5 separate regions of the Homo sapiens genome follow, and all the other regions are reported to be linked to region 1. The links are microRNA targets in miRTarBase. Many come from high-throughput screens and were not tested one by one. Region 1 holds a microRNA gene; each other region holds the end of a gene's coding sequence.
Evidence for each region. Region 1 holds the annotated microRNA hsa-miR-4799-3p (ACUGGCAUGCUGCAUUUAUAUA, at 1,900-1,921, shown strand). A microRNA usually pairs through its seed, bases 2 to 8, with sites in the 3' UTR of a target mRNA and lowers its output. Matches are read on the target gene's strand: a 7mer-m8 pairs with bases 2 to 8, a 7mer-A1 pairs with bases 2 to 7 and ends in A, and an 8mer does both.

Region 1 (4,458 bases):
GCAGCCATGGGGTGACAGAAAAGGCAAGTAGTAACAGAACTTGAGACACAGCAGGGTGAGCAGGTACCTAAAGGAGTGCTGCCGGCATGGCATCCTCTGAGAGCAAGTCCACCTAGGGTGGACTGGGCCAAGGGAAGATGCCTCACTAGGCTGGTATCATCAATTTTGTGTGGGTTAAGCCATTTGTCCTCCACCTCCCACTTTTGGGAGAATGAGAGAAGACGCTCCAGAGAATGAGAGAAGACGCAAGGGCTCAGATTTGCATTTGATGGTGGGAAACTTAACCCTATAGATTTAGGGAGTAACTGTTAGTGACCTAACCTAGGACTACTGGCGGGGCCGGGCAAGGTGATTCACGCCTGTAATACCAGCATTTCGGGAGGCTGAGGCGGGCGGATCACGAGGTCAAGAGATCGAGACCATTCTGGCTAACATGGTGAAACCCCGTCTCTACTAAAAAATACAAAATTTAGCTGTGCCTGTAGTCCCAGCTACTCAAGAGGCTGAGGCAGGAGAATCACTTGAACCCGGGAGGTGGGGGTTGCAGTGAGCTAAGATTGTGCCAGAAACTATTGGGGGATAGGTAGGTGTGGCAACCGTTTAATTTTTGACCAAACTGGGACATGATTTCATATTTACATTGGGCTGGACCTGGCAAGCCAGGATGTAGGCTCACCCTACATATGGGGAATATGCAAGTCATATATACACATTTAAAAATACGGGGAGCTACTTTTACATCTTAAATACCGCCTTGTCAAGACCCTCAACTATGTTCATACTATGACATTTTTGTTTTGTTCTCCATTTTTAAAAAAGGGTATAGTAGTCCTTATTATGACTATGTTGCCATACTAAATGTTTTACTAAGAATATCGTTAATGGCTAAGTGTTTCACCTTCTAAATGTACCAGTTTTCTTTCATTTTTTTCTTTTCTTTTCTTTTTTTTTTTTTTTTGAGACAGTCTTGCTCTGTCGCCCAGGCTGGAGTGCAGTGGCGCAATCTCGGCTTAGTTTTCTTTATTAATTGCATACAATTACTAATCTAGATTTCTTTCCAGCTATTTGTTATTATAAGTGATAGCAAAGTACATCTTTACGCGTCAGTATTTCCATAGTTAAATTCTTAGTCAGATTTGTATAATTCTTGATACATATTGCTAAACTCTAGGTATCTATTTTAAATCTGAGTTTCCACATTGGAAAACTGACAGTTGAGTTTCATTGATTTCTGAAATACGGTAAAATAAGTGGCTTTTAAAAAGTCGCTGAATAGTTTTACCGCTTAGTATGTCTCTTGTGACCTTGCCTTGCAAAGGGGTAATATAGCAAAGTAACAACTTGAATGAAGAGAACAGTTTTATTGCTAGTGCAGCATTTGCCACATTGCCATAAGGTGAATGTCCTGCAGAGAGACTGAATCATACTGAATTTAATTGTGGTGGGTGTGTGGGGTTTAGGCATACAAATACTTGACTCTGAAAATTGACAGTTTGGCACAGTATGGTTGAAAGATCATGTATTGGGCGTGTTGAACTACGTTGAGTTTTCATGAGGAGCAAGACTCTATGTCTTTGAAGTTGTGTAGTGTCATGGAGTGCTGGTGGCATTTTCCACATGGCATATGCGTTTTATTATCAGCATGAAATTAATACATTTTCAGGAGTGGGTTCTTCCGGTATGAGTCATTTACTAGTTAGAGAATACTTTGTGGAAACAGTTGTCAGCAGAAAGAGTCGTCTTAACATCAGCAAGAACTAAAGCTGAGAAATCTGCTTTGTGAGAACTGTGTACATCGCTGGGTCAAATGACCTGAAGGTGTTTTGTAAAGCCCTGTGTGGTAATCGGTTCAGTCACTGCTAATATCTAAATGCAGCATGCCAGTCCTGAGATGCAGGGACTGGCATGCTGCATTTATATATTAGCAGTCTGAGATGCCCAGTACTGACTGTGGTACAACTTGTTCTGAGGGGTCAGACCAGTTTGCAAACAGGAAAGAAGAGACTTCTGGAAAATTTATGTGTGTAAAGACTTCCTGGTTAGTTTGACAGCATTCCTGAGTTATTCACAGCTCAGCTAGTCTCTAAAGACTCCAAAGACCCAGGAAAAATTTTCATATATATATAAAAACAACATAAAATATATATAACATATATTACGTATTATATATAATATATAAATTATATAATATATAAAATTATATATTATATAAATTATATATAATATATTAAATTATATATTATATAAATTATATATATTATATAAATTATATACTATATGTTAAATTATATATATAAATTATATACTATATGTTAAATTATATATATTATATAAATTATGTGTTAAATTATATATTATGTAAATTATATGTTAAATTATATATTATATAATTTATATAACACACATTAAATTATATATTGTATAATTTATATAACACATTAAATTATATATTGTATAATTTATATAACACATTAAATTATGTATTGTATAATTTATATAACACACATTAAATTATGTATTGTATAATTTATATAACACACATTAAATTATGTATTGTATAATTTATATAACACACATTAAATTATGTATTGTATAATTTATATAGCACACATTAAATTATGTATTGTATAATTTATATAGCACACATTAAATTATGTATTGTATAATTTATATAGCACACATTAAATTATGTATTGTATAATTTATATAGCACACATTAAATTATGTATTGTATAATTTATATAGCACACATTAAATTATGTATTGTATAATTTATAGAACACACATTAAATTATGTATTGTATAATTTATAGAACACACATTAAATTGTGTATTGTATAATTTATAGAACACATTAAATTGTGTATTGTATAATTTATAGAACACATTAAATTGTGTATTGTATAATTTATAGAACACATTAAATTGTGTATTGTATAATTTATAGAACACATTAAATTATGTATTGTATAATTTATAGAACACATTAAATTATGTATTGTATAATTTATAGAACACATTAAATTATTATATTTATATAACACACATTAAATTATGTATTATATTTATATAACACACATTAAATTGTGTATTATATTTATATAACACACATTAAATTGTGTATTATATTTATATAACACACATTAAATTGTGTATTATATTTATATAACACACATTAAATTGTGTATTATATTTATATAACACACATTAAATTGTGTATTATATTTATATAACACACATTATTATATAATTTATATAACACATTAAATTATTATATAATTATATAACACACATTAAATTATATATTATATATTTTACATAACATTAAATTGTGTATTATATAATTTACATAACATTAAATTGTGTATTATATAATTTACATAACATTAAATTGTGTATTATATATTTTACATAACATTAAATTGTGTATTATATATTTTACATAACATTAAATTGTGTATTATATATTTTACATAACATTAAATTGTGTATTATATAATTTACATAACATTAAATTGTGTATTATATAATTTACATAACATTAAATTATATAATTTACATAACATTAAATTTTATATTACATAATTTACATAACATTAAATTATATATAATTTATAAATTATATAATACATATTAAATTATATATAATTTATAAATTATATAATATAAAGTTATATATAATTTTTAAATTACATAATATATAAGTTATATATGATATATATTATATAATTTATATTTATATATATATTTAATTTATATATAATATATACTGCAAAATATATATAATATAAAACATATATTTTATAGTATATATTATATATATTATGCAATTTATAAAATATATATTATAAATATATATTATATATTTAAAATAGAATAAATATATATTATATATTATAAATATAAAATATATATTATAAAATATATATTATATATTATAAATATAAAATATATATTATAAAATATATATTATAAATATAATATATTATAAAATATATATTATAAATATATATTATAAAATGTATATTATAAATATAATATATTATAAAATATATATTATAAATATAATATATTATAAAATATATATTATAAATATATTATAAAATATATATTATAAATATATTATAAAATATATATTATAAATATATTATAAAATATATATTATAAATATAATATATTATAAAATATATGTTATAAAATATAAAACATGTTATAAAATATATTATGAAATATGTTATATTTTAAAATATATATTATGAAATATATGTTATATATTATAAAATATATGTAATATATATATGCAGTTGATTCCAAGATGATGAAATGTATGGACGACTATTTTCTAAAAAAAAAAAAAAAAAGAATAACATCTAAGCTAAAGGGAAAGAACAGCTCTGAATATTGACTTGTTTAGCTTTCATTAGTACTTAACATTGAAACAGAGTTTTTGAATGTTCA
Region 2 (4,000 bases), not on the chromosome of region 1:
AGAGACCCTACAGACTTCTCAAATATGGAGAAAGCTTTGGAAGGAGCACTCGTCTGATGTGCCGGATGACCCACCACAAGGAGAATCCTTACAAGTGTGGTGTCTGTGGGAAGTGCTTTGGTAGAAGCAGGAGCCTGATCAGACACCAAAGAATCCACACAGGCGAAAAACCTTTTAAATGTCTTGACTGTGGAAAAAGCTTTAATGACTCCTCAAATTTTGGTGCCCACCAGAGAATCCACACAGGAGAGAAACCCTACAGATGCGGAGAGTGTGGAAAATGCTTTAGTCAGAGCTCTAGTCTTATTATACATCAGAGAACGCACACCGGTGAGAAGCCCTATCAGTGTGGAGAGTGTGGGAAAAGTTTCACCAACAGTTCTCATTTCAGCGCCCACCGGAGAGTTCACACTGGGGAGAATCCCTACAAATGTGTGGACTGTGAAAAAAGTTTCAATAACTGTACGAGATTTCGAGAACATCGGAGAATACACACTGGAGAGAAGCCCTATGGATGTGCCCAGTGTGGCAAACGTTTCAGTAAGAGTTCTGTTCTTACCAAACATCGGGAAGTTCATGTGAGAGAAAAGCCTCTGCCACACCCTCCATCTCTGTATTGCCCTGAGAACCCACATAAGGGAAAGACTGATGAATTTAGGAAAACTTTTTGATGATGATCTTCTCTTCCTAAATGCCCCCTTAGCCATTTTACCCTAATCTCATTCTTGGAAGCAATCTTTTCTTAGCTATGAAGTGTAATTTCCAAGATAAACTTGAGAATATAAATAAACTAAACACTTTCATCCTGTTCTCACCTCTGCCTCTAACTTCATCAGTCTGTTCCTCCTCTTCTGTGTGTCTCAGCTTCTCCTTTAAGAATGTGGCGAAGATACATTGTCCGAGTTCAGAATGAAATACCCTTCAGTACATTGAGGCCACTGCAACTGGATTGCTAAGTTCGGCAACATTCAAGATCTTCCATATGGGTGAGAGTTGTCTTCAAGGATATAAAAAATGCCAAAAGTTTTTTTGTTGTTATTACCTACTCCGTGAGATCCTGGATGAAACTTGATAACAGATTTTCACATTTAGATAGAACTTTGAGGAGTCTGATCGGAACTACATCAAATCCATCTTGGTTTTGAAGAGATCCACAAAAGAAGAGTGAAGATTTTATAGCTTTCCTCAGAAGTCTGTTACAGTGTACCTTTTTTTTTTTTTTTGTCAAGAAGTTGATCCAAATAGCTAGGGCAGAATCCCTGTATTGTCACTGAAATCCTGTTACTAATGCCTTGCCCTCCATGGAGGTGAGAAGCAATTGATCACCCCTCATCCTTTTCTGTACCCGAAGACTTAAATCCCCTGGCTGCTGCTTCTCCAGCCTATAAGTAATCCCAGGTCCTCCTACTGTTTCTCATAGCCCTGCACTTGCCTCTCAGTTGCTCTGGGTGCTCCTGCCGGCCTCTTCCGAACTACCATGCCCTCCTCAGATAGAATAGGAGGCCTGCTCGTGGTGTGTCTCACTAAAGCAAAGTAGGATTTCAGATGCGTTCTAGTTCTATCCTCTAACTTCTCTGGCTCTTATCTAGAACATGACTGGCATGTTGGCATATTTCGTACCTCCCACCCCTGCACTGCAGTATAATATTATAATAGTGTTTCTAAAACTTTAAGGGGATAGGGAAGAGGTAATAGACACCTGAAGCATTTCTAAGACCAGTTGGACTCCTTTGGCCTGCTGTCGATCAGATAGCCACCTCAGCTTAGACCAGCGCTCTCAGGTCTGGCTGTTAAATCTCCCAGTCTCTTTTCCTGAGGCTTCTAGTCCCTGTTCACCGCATCAGAAACCTAACTGTAGTGTGCCAAGTAACTTAACACAACTCTAGAGCTCACTGGGTGAAAAGTGGGAACATTTATAAAAACTTCAATCCAGAAATCCAGAACACCGTTTTTGTTTTCCTCATTTACTTGTTTTGTCTGAAAAATCTCTTTGAGAACCCCCGGCAGTAACCCAGTAAACACTGAAGGAAAAGTTCTGATGGGGGATGGTTAATTGACTTTTGAAGTTACAGATGAAACCCAGAGATTTGATTTTCCATGGCCAGTTGCTTCAGGATGGAGTCAGTGGCGTTTATTCCCTTAGTATGTAGGTGACCCAGGGTGGCTTTGCTTTGGCAAGGGAGAAGTCACAAGTTTAATGGGAAGGGAACCGGAGTTAGGGCTGTTTGTGGGTGATTATTTTGCTCTTCTCTCTCCCTTTCTTTGTCAAATGCTCTTATTTGAAGCCATCTGGAAATGATATTTTTCCTTTTGGTATGTTTCAATCTTTTGAAACTTGTTCAGCAAAGTACCTAGGAGGGTAGGCACTGTAGAAAGAAATCTAATTTATGGTGCCAGAATAGGGTGTGGCCTGTTGGAAGGCAGGTGACTCAGGTAGACATTGATAAATGTTTCTGATTTACATTTGTTGGAAATATTATGACTGTTCACATCTCAATAGGTTGATTTTTCTGTGTTGTCCAAGTTATAGATTTCTAATGCTAAGTACAGTTCCATGTTGGTAGTGTGCGTAGCACAGTAAGATGTTTGTGGTGCCAGTGGGCTTGTGTTTATATTGTGTAGATGTTCTGGAATTCCAGCTCTAGAGAAGATGTAAATTAATAGAAATCACCACTTAATAATATGTACACAGGATTGATATTATGTGGAAGCATGATTCAGGAAAGTAGATGACTTATTCATAAATATGAAGCACTGTTACATGTAAGGCCATGTTCTAGCCACAGTGAATGATAGAAAAAGGAAGGAAGGGGCATGGTGCCTGGGCTCAAGGAACTCACAGTTTGATAGAGGAAGCATCACAGCAAAAGTTGGGGCCACTTACACCATGGCAGTTACAGAAGGCCAGGAGCTCAGTCATGAGAACATCACCTTCCCCTGCAGAAGAGTTGCGCTAAGTTGCCCAGAATCATATTCTGTACCTTCATCTCTCAACCTTCCCCAGTGGCAGGAAAGGGTCAAGCAAGACCCATTCCCTCTCTAGTGGGACAAACTGATTCTGTTTAACTCTCATATGCCTGGGAGCAAGCTGAGGTGGAATTTGGGTTCCCCTATCTCTACTCCTAATTGTAAATGGGCTGTCTAGACATGTGTTACATTAATTTGATGAACTTTGTTCTGAAGAAATGGAAGGTCTCCCCCCCATTTTAGACCAACACTACCTGTCTCCCTGCATTTTATTTGTTTTCACCTGGTACATGTAAGTCAAAATGAATAATCATGTTCTGACCAATGTGTCTTTTAGATCACATAACATTGCCTTTATGAAGATTCATAGAAAAAGGTTTTTTTATCTAGATCTCAGTGCCAAGGAAAGCTCTGATCCTAAGCGCAGTATGTGTACACACACACGTCTACATGTGTGTGTAGATCTGTATGTATGTATTACAAACACTGTGATTTTTGTAACTTAAGCTGCTTTTTCTCTCTTTGTTCTGGCTGCTGGAAAGTTCAACAAAACTTACAGCCCACCTCAACCAACTACCCCAACCTATATTTATTTAATTTCATCTTATTTCCTTGTAAATTGTGTCAAATCCTGTTTTTGAAAAGCAGCATAGACTGACAACTTTTCACTATCATCTTATCGAAGGCATTTTGGAAACTGGGGTCGTATGTCCCACCTAGGCTTGCTTTGTTACTGCCACAAATACCTCCAGTTCTTACCAGTGATGTTATTATGCATTCAACCTAATTCATTCATCTGGAAAGAAACAGTTTTTTAAAAAGGGAAACCTCACACGTAAATGGCTCAGGGCAGCCTGGCCTTGGTGGAATGAGCATGAGACTGGAAGCTGAAAGAAGCAAGTTTTAATCTTGTCACTAAATGAGTGTTGTTTGACACATCATAGCCTCTCTGGGCCTCGGCTCCTCATCTGAAGAGAAGTTGAACTTAACTGCTAAGTTGCTCTGGCTCTAATGTTTCATGAGGCTGTGGAGC
Region 3 (4,000 bases), not on the chromosome of region 1:
ACTCCTGGAGATCAGGCCCAGACCCCGGGTGTTCTCAGGGGACACACTGTGGACGGTGGACCAGTTCCTAGCGCCGTTTTGTCCCCCATTGCCCCTGCTGCTTGTTAAAAGTATTAGCGACCCCCGTGATGGCAATCCACAATTTTTGGAGGGTGCGGGTGGCATGTACGGACGTGAAGGTCTCTTTGTGAGGCACGTCCACGCACACACAGGGACACTCATTTTGTAAAACCTAGATGGGCGCTGCCACCACCCCTCCATGCCACCCGCGTACCAATCAAGGATGCAGGTTGTAGAAAACACCTGGACGTGTGTGGGCTGCACCTTAAAACAGAATTCACCCAGTAGGCACTCCCAAATCCAAATAAAGTGCGTAGGGTGCTTTGAGACTTGGGGGGAGGGGTGTTAAAAAGTTACTTGTAAACAATACATTTAAGGTTATTTTCAAGTGAATGTTTAAAGTGCTGCCTGCTCCAAGCTCTAATAACACATTAGTGCGATAATAACACTCCTTGCATCTGCCAGGAGCCCTCCAACTGGCTGCCAGAGGTTCCACGAGGTTCGCGGTGGTTGGTGTAGGCGAAGGCTACTAAAAGGGGCGAAAAAGAACCCAAAGCCATGCCTGTGGGGTTTGCCAGCGCCGACCCGCTCCTCGCCAGCGCCCGCGGCCAAGCGGACCCGGCCTTCCGAAGGAGCCATCTTGCGCGCAGCAGCAGCAGCGGCTGAGCCTGAGCCCCTAAACAGCTGCAGAGGTGTGACAGGTTTATTATGCTGGGCCTAGCTCGCTCGCAATTCCTTAAAGACAAAGGGCAGCAGAGAGAGCCCGCGACGGGGCCTGGCCTACCCGGGTTCCACGCACCTCCTGCACAAACTCGGGCAAGATTGCTTTGCCATGGTATGTGAGTTTAACTGAAGGTTTAACTTTCTCAGTTTTTCCTTAAAAATATCAAGGTGGAAGATGTTTTGTAACATTTGAAACCAACAGCCAAAGTCTGGCAGAGCAGGAAAAAATAAGTTTACTGAAATTTAATTGAGATTTAAGATAGAAGAAACCCTGTAATAAGAATTGTCTTGAAGGATGTCCAAATGAATTTCTCTCATAGCACAGAAATAGATAAAAAATGCCGAAGTAAATCGATTCTCCTTTTCTCCTTTTAAACCACATACACCAGGAAGCCAAATGAACTCCCGCTCCTTCCATTACTCAGGGTGCAGGAGCAGTGAGAAGGTTGCAACCAAAAATACTTTTTAGTTTCCTTCAAACATGGATGCTGCCATCCGTTTGGAGAAGTAGAATTCAACATCATGGCTCAACTGGAGCTGCATAAACCCCTGCCTAGAATCTCTCCTGATTCTAGGTGTCCAAACAAGCAACACTGAATTAAACAGGGCCATGGCAAGCCTGAGGGCCCCTGGAATAGTCTCTCCTGGGTGTGGGAAGGGAGGTTCCGGTGGTCAGAGGAGAGGGGGTGCCTGCCCATCAGGGTCAAGGCTAAGAGGAATGTGACTCTTTGTGAGATTTGTTGGAGGATGTGTGTGACAGTGGGTTTGGGAGTTGGGTTTGCAAGTGTTTGTGAGAATGTGTGACTGTGAGATGGCATGTTTGTGGAGTGTATGTGCACTTGTGAATGGATGTGCATGGATGTTTGTGTTCGAGCCAATGTGTGAGTATGTATCTGTGTGTGTGCCCACTATCCCGCCCAGGCTGAGGCCCGGCCTCCCAGCAACCATGTGTTTCCAATTAGCAGCATCCCGCCTGGGAGTGCAGAGAAGGCGAGTCCTGGGACAGCTTCTGAGGAGCGGGTGGGCTAGCTCAGGCCCCCCAGTTCTGCTCCATCGAGGGCGAGGCCGCCCGGCCAGCAAGCTTTCACAGCAACTGGGCAGCCACACAAAGAGCCCTCTCTCCTGCGCCAGTCGTTGGAGACTCGGTCCTCCCCCAGATCATAAACCTGCCTGTGAAGACGTTCAGAAATAGTTTACCCGCACTCACACACACATGTGCAAAGGCTGGAATTCCATTTGCTATAAAGTTTTATTTTATTTTGCTTGGAAGGGGAGTGAGGGGGAGAAGTGTCCTGACCTAATTTGTTCTAGGGCAAAATACTGTATTTCATGTGGAGGTATACACCTGTACATGAATCCTTGCTTGCTGCCTGTGGGTGTCCTGCACATGTGTGCGTCAGCCTACCTGTAGCTGTACACCATACACAGCTCAGGAGCACACACCTGTGGTCTTACCCAGGCCACCTAAATGATGCATGCAAACAAACCAGATCCAGAGATCTGAGGCTGAGCCTTAAACCTTTTTATTATAGCTTCAAATTAACGCTGATGTCGTTCAAGTGCATAGCACAATGTCTGGCATGTATTAGGCACTTAACATAAATGGCTGAATGAATACATTAAACTGAGATTTAAAAAGTGACCTAGTAGTCATAAGAAGAGGCTGCAAATAAGCACTGTGTAAAAGATTCTAGACCACAAGGAAAGGCACAGGCTCAGAGACCTCTAGGTAACTTGGTGGCTTTGCCATGGAATGTTCCAACAGTATTTGCTTACCTTCAAGTTTCTTCTTCTGACCCCCCTCTATTTCTCAAGACTTCTTTTTCAGATGGGTGAGAGCCCTTGGGTTCTAATTATAGTCAGCAGAGACCAGCCAGGGTGTGAATTCCTCCCTTCTGCAGGAACTAGGTTTCCAGAGTGACTTGTCACCAGGAGGGGGAAAGAAATGTCCCAGGCAAAGACTAAGGAGGAGGCTCGCCGGAGCACCCCCGCCCCCCTTAGCCTTGCAGGAGTCCTCCCACCAAGGGCTTTCTCAAAACAGGGCAAGGCCTGACCACAGCGATCTCATTCCAAGGCCTGGATTGTGGGGTTGTTTGGGGACCCCTATAGCCGTGTTCATAACTTGGGAGAAAACATCCACACTGACCCTGTGAATGCTAGTTCACAGAAAGACCATTTTTAATATGAAAAGAGAAAAACAATTTGAAGGCCCCACAATTTGTTGTGTAACAACATAATTTCAAGTAAAGTGAATGTGATTAAAACATCTTGATTTCACAAAGCCATTCAGAGGAGGCTTCGACAAACGCAAAGCGACCCAAACCCTGGAGGGTCACATCCCGGCTGCTACAAACCTCGGCGGGGCGGCCCCGCTCTTGCGGCCGGGACAGCGCAGCGGCAGCAGGGGCCGCAGGGGACCCGCAGATTGGCACGCCGCTCCCCATCCCCGCAGCGCGTCTGCACCGGAGACTCTGCGGGGATTGTAGCCGGAGGGCGGGCCGGGCTCCGAGGCGCTGCTCAGGCATTGGGGTTTGTCCTCATGAGCTCCACGTCGGCGTGCACCATCTCCCTCACCAGCTCCTGCAACACAGGGGTGGGCGTGAGGGAGGAGCTTCTGCCACTCTCTCCTGGTGACACCCCACCCCGGGTGTCGGCCCCAGAGAGGCCTCCGCGTCCCTCGTTCCAGCTCCCCTCACTTCTCCCGCACCCCGCCTTCCGGGCTTTGGGCATCGCAGGCGCCTCAGGCGCCCGACCCTGAGAGCTGCCGCCCTGCAGCCCGGGGCCCCGCAGCGGGCGGCGTGCGCCCTAAGAGATACTCACATCGAAAGCGACCCGGGGCTTCCAGTTCAGCTTCTGTTTCGCTTTGGTGCAGTCGCCCTGCAGAAAGTCCTAGGGAAGAAGAGGGGGAGACGAAGCAGGCGTGGGTCGTGGGGGTGGGGGCAGCAGGTCCCGAGCCCCGGGAACTCCCACCGTTCCGCTCCCTCTGGGCGCACAAGGCTCCGGGTTTCCCTGCTTTCGGTCCCTGCTGTGCGCGTTCAGTTGCGGCTCTCGGCGCCGTAAATCACTAGGTCGCGGTTAAGAATGTGCTGTGCGGACCCGTGAGGACCGTGACCGCGATCCACCCCCAGCTACCTCCACACCTCTTCTCCCCAAGGCGTCCCTTGGGCTCTTAATGCTTTTTTTTTTTTTTTTTTTTTTTTTTTATAACATGAAGTTG
Region 4 (4,000 bases), not on the chromosome of region 1:
TACAGCTGTTGATAAAAATCCCTTCAGAATTTTTTGGGACTGGCTTTCAATTAATATAAAGGCACATGATTCTCAGTATCAGTGTGGCAATTCTCTCCTTTGAAAGTGTATCTGATTTTTTTTTTATCATTGTAAGCACTAAAAGTCATTTCCCAGGTAATTGTGGCTGAGTGAGAGATAAATAGGTAGAAAATATGCTTTTAGAAAGAGAAGGCGAAAACTATTTTTTTCAGTTATGAGAGTTCTATAAAATGTTTTGAGCAATCACAACAACACTGCTGGTGAAAATAAATTTGGGCCACAGAAATCTGCATGCATAACCTTACTCTGAGAATACTATAGTAGGCTCAAACACATGTACATTTAACAAACAGCCTTGACTTAAAGAGGTGTTATGTACTTTCTTCCAGATGTGGCTAAAGCCCTGTAAGAGGGCAGATATACCAAAACGGCCAAGTTATGTTGCTCCATTGTATAAGACAAGTGAGCGGAGAGGAGTATTATCCACCACTGGCCATTCCACGAATTTTGTGATTGCCATGACTCTTCCCTCTGACCAACCCAAGGAACACTGGATTGGACGAGGTGTAGCACTGTTATGTCAACTTAATTCATAACCAGAAGACATCATTTCCTTGTTCCTATTTCTTGTTGGCTGGCTGAGTAGAGAAAGCATATTTTACTACTTAAACCTTTTTTTTTGTTTGTTTAAATACATTTGACTAAAGTTATAATTATGAATTTACTTATGAGCAAATGCAGCTAAACTTAATATGACTCATACTTAAATGTAAGGAAATGTTCTGAAATAAAGACTAAAGAAAACACACTGGCATATTTGCTCTCTTTGAGTAACTTTATTTTGGAGGAGTTCCATAAGCATTAGGAACATACATAAAATGACACACCACTGTTGACAATGAAAAAAAAAAAACAGCATTTGATATTTTCCAGCTTTTTAAGTTAAAAAATGATTCAGTTAAAACAAAACAAAAGTTTAGATATTTTAGCAAGAATCACCTTGCAGGACCATAATCACATTTAAGCCACTGACTTGTTTGTTTGTTAATGGAAAAAATTCACACTGCATCTAGTTACTATAGTATTTCTAAGCATAATCAATCAATCACAGCTGATTGATTGAATGCAATGTGATTGATTGATTGATTGATATATACCAAAATTCATATGGATGTCACACAGTGACAGCATTGTACAAGTAACGTTAATGACCTCCAACAAACACATTTTAAATTAGACTGGTCAAGCTAAAAGGAATGTTGGAGCCAAAAGAAATGTAGTGGAATTCAGATTGTCTATTAAGACTTGAAACTATACATTAGAATGATGTGGAACCCTAATACTAGCAGCAACTGTTACAGCCCTCTTAAAAGATTTGTAAGAATCTAGCAAATAAAGAAAGATAATACCATTTTTGAGAGAATATAAAACTTCTTTATATACTTCAGCATAACCTACTTGCTTTAAATCAATCAGGCATTTATTTTAAAACTGGGAGTATATTCCAGCTATTGCTTTTATAAAGGTTCTAAAATGAAGCAGATTTAATGCTGGAATGCAGAATCCTACCGTGGGTATAAAAACCCAAAAGTGAACTATAAATATATCTTGGTTCAGAAATCTAGATAGATAGATATCTAAATCACTTGAAGTTGGCAGTACTAAATAAAATATCAGCACCTTTTAGCTAGGTTGCTTGAAGGGCCAAGCAATGAGATGAGGACTGTCCTAATTCAGTGCCCAATGCTGAAAATTAATTATATATAAAACTTCTACTTATTATAAGGAGGCCATGGAGTAAGTCAGAAATAATTTTTCAGATTCAAGCATAAATTAAAGAAATAACACCTAAGCTCCCTTGCTTATAGCATACAGAAAAGACACTGGCAATAATCTATAAATACCTGGATGCATGTGCTGCTCTCAAAGTTTTGTTTTTGTTTTGAAGTTCATAGAGTAGGAGGAAAGAAGAGTACTAAATGAAAACATTTTAGATGGAATGGAAAAGAGTTTGGCTCTTATATATTTGAACAATAAGATAGATTGTTACAGCAGCTACACTGGTTGCCAAGCAGATTAAAACAAAGCTAGCTGCACATAGTTCAAATACAGTTTACCTGGCATAAATGAAGACCATGTGGCATAGGATGTAAACAGAAAGCTACATGCATATGACTAGTAATACAAATTATTAAGTAAAAATTCAGGATAAACATGGCTTGCACTTCTCACAAATCATTCACAATTATGGTAGGAGAACAGGGCACCTAAAAGACTAATCCCTATCAGGCACCAACAGCATATCTTGGCACAAGATGATCAAGTGATTTCAGCTGAGTAATTTAAATGCATCTTCCAAGTCACTTGGGTACCATGACAGCCATGGCAATAATGGAGTTTATCCTAGTAACTGTTCTAAATTGACACTTCATGTACACATTACAGACATGGTAAACTTCGATTTTCTGCTTTACAACCTTGTAGCCAGCCACGACATGTGCTCTTGGTTCCAGTGCCAAACTGGTAAAGCAATGTGAACATTCAGAACTTACATTTCCCAATTAACTAGTTGGTACTGTTAAAATAGGAAAATCAACTATTTAAACCACGTCTGGTTCATTTCTTTGATATTTTCTAGAGGGTTACAATTTTTTAAAAAGACCACATGCTCCAAACCCTCACCTACCCCCGCCAAAAAAAAAAAAAAAAAATCAAAACAAAATTAAAGTAAAAAACAAAACAGAAAGAACACCCCAACACCAAGTATTATAATAATACAAAGAACCATTATGAATCTTTCATTAAACTGAAGCTCACACAAACATACAATCACAAATTTCAGTAGTTTAGGCTGCAGGTTTAAACACTATGCAAATATATACAAAAATAGTAACTCTAGATTCAAGAATAAGGGCTTTTCCCAATGCTAAATTCATACTCTAATGCAGCCTGAGCTTTCCTCTAGTTCCTATGTCTACTTTATGCAGTTTCAAAGTTGTGTCAAGTTGATCCCTATCACCACATGAATATATGTAGCTGAATTAAAGAGCACTACAATTCATTCTTAAAACACACAAAAAATGTCTCCCCAAAGTCCATTTAAAATATTTTTAAAGTTTAAATGATTTTTTTTGGTTCGATCTCTATTTCTGCATAGCCACAGAAGTTTCTACTAATAAAGAGACTAGTGTTTTATATGATTATTTTGTGAAAAGTCTTAATCAAACATATCAACACTGGTTCATGGAGTCCCATATTCTCCTCTCTTTATCACAAGCTTTATATTTTTAAAAGACCCCTACGTGCAGGGAAAACAGTACTAAGCACCAGCCTCTTGTGGTTAGGCTCAAATCTATGAAACTTGTAAGTAGTGCAAGCCACTGACTTTCCTTTGAGCAATGTGCATACAGTACAAGGAACAGATGCAAAGCTGCATGGTAACATTCTCGTAATCAACAGTGATTACTGGGAAAGGTCAAAACTGGATGTCAAACACAATTTTATCTTCATAGAGGGCAATCACCAGCATAATGGCAAATCCAAAGAGCAATCCTAAATTCTGAAGGATGAATTGCCCCACAGGACAAAAGCCATGTTCTTCATTGTCACCATCACCATGCAACATTTCTGGAAGCTAGAAAAATAAATCTTCACATTAAACTTTGTATAATACTTCTGCTCAAAACAGTTTTTAAAAACATTTTCCTACTTAAGAAAATTAGTGACTGAAGTGTAACTACAGACAAAATAATTATTTTATTGAACACAATGCTACCCACCAGATGTATTTTAGTCAAATACTGAAGAAATTTTATGCTTTTGCTAGGAAATACTAACTCTGTTCCCTCCTCCTCATCCCCCACAACAAACACTTAAAATATGCACATTAGTCATTTTTCAAACAGTTACTATCCACTGACCTTATAAATTCTGACATTTTACTTTATGCTAAAGCATAAAGCAACTTATTACCAATAAG
Region 5 (4,000 bases), not on the chromosome of region 1:
AAAGACAAGCTGAAATACCACATTGACCATGTTCATGAAATAAAATCTCCTGATGATCCTCTCAGTACTTCTGAGGAAAAACTTGTATCCTTGCCAGTTGAGTACTCATCTGATGACAAAATCTTTCAAACAGAAACAAAACAATATATGGACCAGCCCAAAGTTTATCAGTCGGAAGCCAAGACGATGTTACAGAATGTATCTGCTGAAGTATGTGTTCCAGTAACTCTGGTTCCAGTTCAGATGCCTGACACTCCGAGTGACCTAGTGCGTCATACTACCACACTCCCACCATCTTCTCATGAGATTCTGTCACCACAGCCACAGTCAACTGATTATCCACGAGCAGCGGATTTAGCTTTTCTGGAAAAATATACTCTTACTCCTCAACCTGCAAATATAGTTCACCCAGTTCGACCTGAACAAATGCTAGATCCTAGAGAACAATCTTATCTTGGAACATTACTGGGCCTTGATAGCACTACTGGTGTTCAAAATATTTCTACGAATGAGCATCATTCATGAGTAAATCTAAACATTCCACAGATTTTTGGATGGTTATATGCTAATGGTAGAGATGATAGCTTTTAAATTTGTGGGGCTGCTATTTTCTTGTTTTCTCTAGTTTCTCAAGTCCTCAGAACAGTTTCAAATCAAGAAAACTATGTGTCTCTGTTTACTGAACATGAATATTTGGACAAAATTTCTGGCATAATATTTGAAGTGCACATTTTTGTGATTTTTAAAGATTATTTAGTGCTAACTTTTAATGGTTTCTTAAATTTTTTGCAATTATTAGCTGCTGATATTATGGAAGTATTTTTTTTAATCATCAGTGGAAATTTTTATTCTTCTTTAGTCTCATTCCTCTCCTTCTTCTTCCTAGCCCTTCTTACAAACAAGTTTGAGGACCATGTAGCCTTTAAGAAGGAATTAAGAGTACACTGATAATTGCAACTGTTTCTTATCCTAAGATTCAATATTACGTTATACAAATTTTTAAAATTGAAATTAGGAATTTGAATTTACAAGAATGCCTTGGATATTTCTGTGTTGTCTTTCCATTCATACATAATTTTAGGTTATCATTATCCTTTGGACTTTTGATATACTCAAAGCCAGAAAGCTTAACTAATGTAAGATTAGCTATTATTTGTAGGACTGAAATAATAATCCAGATAATTGGTTTTTGCCTATACTTCAATTGTTATGAATAAGAAAGGCAAACATAGGTCTGGGCATTAAATTATACAAACTGAAAATGTGTTACAAGAAAAATATGAGAGTTTTAACTAGATGTTTTTCAAGGTAAGTTCACCTTTTGTACTTTACTATTTATTTCAGAAATGTTGACAATACAACATAGCATATGTCTTCATCTCACTAAGAAAAGAGCAGTTGTAACTCAATGAAATTTAATTAAACATGCTACTTTTGATTTCATTTACTTGGCTGATAGAAACTCTGGGAAACAGAACCTAGATATTTTGTGTTCAATTGTTAGAAAAGGTGCCAAACAGATTATGAAATTTGTGCCTAATTTAACTTAACATTGTTTAATTAAATGGAACCACTACTTATATACAGATTTACATGCAATCCAGATCTTTAATTTTGCCTTCACAAAAGCCTAATGTCTGTAATTAACCTTTAATTTTTATTTCTGTATGAGACAAAAGTTGAGGACTTGGTGAAAGGAAATAGCAGTTACAGCAAAACCTCAGTGATTACAATTGAGGAAAAAGTCAAAATTATAAAATACCTTTAAAGACATGCACTTTCCATATTTTCAAGTCAATTTTAACTAAAAACTAAGATAATGTTTCCTAGTAGAGTTGCTTGAAGATTAGACTAGACAGGGTTGATTTATTATTAGCATGTCATTTGTACATAAACTAGTAGAAAATAGCAGTTTTAAAAGTTTTCTATTTCAGTTTTGTTTACACTCCTAATTGCTTTAAGCACTTTTTTTGTGTGTGTAAACTGTAAAGTCTAGCCCAGCCCTTGTGAAAAAAAAAATCACAAATAAAACAGTGAAGTTTTAATGAATAAAGTTTAATCAATTAGTAATGGCGGAAACTGTCGCTGAAGCACTTAAGAAATAAAGGTACTTTACAGCAACATTCGCCATACTAGCGGAGGTAAAACAAAAGAAATATTGAAAACTGAGGCAGTTAACCAAAGTAGCTCATATAAATAATAAAACCAATCTGAGTTTAGCCTCATTTGTCAAGGTTTGGTTGTAATTGTCTTAAGACTAGTGGACATACTTACTATGTTCTCCTTTTTAAAGTATTCTTATTTCTTTGTGTGGAAATGTTATATCTGGGGTACTTACATGATTGAGGTTGACTATATGAGGTACTGTTAGTCTGTTAGTCTTTCAAATTGACTTTTAAAAATACATATCTTTATGATTTTCATCATAAAGACTGGCAATATTATAACTAAAAATCTTACTATAATGAAAGAAATCATACATAAAAATGTAGCCTGCCTTACATATAAGCTAATGTAGAAAAGTTTAGACTTATAAAAAGGCAGATAGTATATATATATTTATATACATGTATGTATATGGTATATTATACATTTGGTGGCAGAAAAAGAAGATACTGCATTTTCACATTGAAAAGAATACTTTGATTTTTGAAGGTATTTACTTTAGGGTTCTTTTAATAATAATGTCCGTCCTAATGCTTTAAATATATGATTTAATTGTAGGAATTGGTTTACACAGAACTTTTTTGGAATACATCTCTTAGTAAAGTGAAATATAATAATATAATTGTATTTAGTTACTATTGTAGATAACTTAAACTTGAGTAGTGATTTACTGTTTTATAAAATGCTTTCATATATGTTATCTCATTTGAACCTCATAACCAGCCCTGAAATAGTAAAAACAAGCTATATTCCCACTTTATAAAGAATTTGAGGTTAAGATAAAAGGACTCATTTAAGCTCACATGGTCAGTAGGTGGCAGAGCTACTAGTAGGGAAAGAAGAAAGCTAGCATTAATGAATGCTTACTATGTGCCAGGTACTACATCCTGTCATTTAATCTTAACCTAGTCTGGGAGATGCGTAATATAATTCTGGTGAAGTAATAGTTTCAGTGGATGATTGAAAACAACAACAACAAAAACAAAATGAAACTAATCTGCTGCCTCTAATTTCCAAAAATGTAAGAAATTTTACAATTGTGAAAACCTCATGGATTTGGGCAAACTGAATGTATATAGGCTTTTGACAAAAGTTGGCACAAAAAGTATAAAAGGAGGCCTATTCTTTTCAGTTGACCTTTTGTAATATTTGATTTAGAGTATTTTGGACAAATGCTCTATAACTCTAATCCATTTATTTTGTAACTGTACTTAAAATTTTGAATCTTGCAACTAAGTTTAGCCTCATTCAGAATTTTTTTATTTTGTGAGCATAATTTATTGTTTTAAATTAATTTTTTAGCAGATAGCAGTTAGCACTTAATCTGTAAATTGAATAATTTATCAAGTGCAGGAATGTGTTAATCTAATGGGTTTTGACTTAAATGCACCAAAGATTTTTAGTAGGTATTAAATAGTTTAAAAGACTTTAAATTCTTTCTTGCTTGAATAACTATTTGTCCAAAGAAGCACAGTTGAAGTCCTAGAATAATGGATTTTTTTAAAAAAAAAAAGTTGTTAGTTTGAATACTGAGATTGATTATTGTGTTTATATGTATAAAAATAGGAGCAAAAGAAAATACTCTGGGAATAGTCATACTGACAAACCAATTATAAGTGAGAATACTGTTTTCCTTAGTTTAATTAATACAATGTTATGTTTTTTAGAGAACACTACTAAATGCTAAATAAGCCTATTTTTTACACTACACTATCAAAATAATTTTTGCCTTCGAATTTTTTTAAGTCAAGTTGAGGTTATTTTTGTAAGAAACCCAACCTATTTTTTTTGCAGCCTAAAATCCCATTTAAGGTTAGGGGTTGGTCCTTATGCC

Region 2: miRTarBase lists ZKSCAN2 as a target of hsa-miR-4799-3p. Seed matches in the 3' UTR shown: 7mer-A1 at 2,392-2,398.
Region 3: miRTarBase lists GMDS as a target of hsa-miR-4799-3p. The part of its 3' UTR that is shown has no 7-base or 8-base seed match.
Region 4: the mRNA of SLC39A10 is a reported target of hsa-miR-4799-3p. Seed matches in the 3' UTR shown: 7mer-m8 at 2,139-2,145.
Region 5: miRTarBase lists ZBTB41 as a target of hsa-miR-4799-3p. The part of its 3' UTR that is shown has no 7-base or 8-base seed match.

Annotation. Positions count from the first base shown.
Region 1 is chr4:147,780,740-147,785,197 of GRCh38, forward strand. It overlaps MIR4799 (microRNA 4799), which reads left to right and starts at 1,856; the gene lies at 1,856-1,929. All of the region lies in intron 1 of ARHGAP10 (Rho GTPase activating protein 10), which reads left to right. RefSeq lists an enhancer at 160-209.
Region 2 is chr16:25,236,487-25,240,486 of GRCh38, reverse strand. It overlaps ZKSCAN2 (zinc finger with KRAB and SCAN domains 2), which reads left to right. Exons shown (of 7, transcript NM_001012981.5): 7 at 1-4,000. The coding sequence ends at 671. Among named protein-coding and RNA genes, the nearest start is that of ZKSCAN2-DT, 19 kb to the left of the region's middle.
Region 3 is chr6:1,620,869-1,624,868 of GRCh38, forward strand. GMDS (GDP-mannose 4,6-dehydratase) reads right to left here. Exons shown (of 11, transcript NM_001500.4): 10 at 3,604-3,672; 11 at 2,938-3,363. The coding sequence ends at 3,301. Among named protein-coding and RNA genes, the nearest start is that of FOXC1, 13 kb to the left of the region's middle. RefSeq lists an enhancer at 3,620-3,729.
Region 4 is chr2:195,734,538-195,738,537 of GRCh38, reverse strand. SLC39A10 (solute carrier family 39 member 10) reads right to left here. Exons shown (of 10, transcript NM_020342.3): 10 at 838-3,655. The coding sequence ends at 3,497. It overlaps DNAH7 (dynein axonemal heavy chain 7), which reads left to right. Exons shown (of 65, transcript NM_018897.3): 65 at 411-835. The coding sequence ends at 617. LOC107985972 (a long non-coding RNA gene) reads right to left here and starts at 416. Exons shown (of 3, transcript XR_001739837.2): 1 at 1-416.
Region 5 is chr1:197,155,884-197,159,883 of GRCh38, reverse strand. ZBTB41 (zinc finger and BTB domain containing 41) reads left to right here. Exons shown (of 11, transcript NM_194314.3): 11 at 1-4,000. The coding sequence ends at 525. Among named protein-coding and RNA genes, the nearest start is that of ASPM, 11 kb to the right of the region's middle.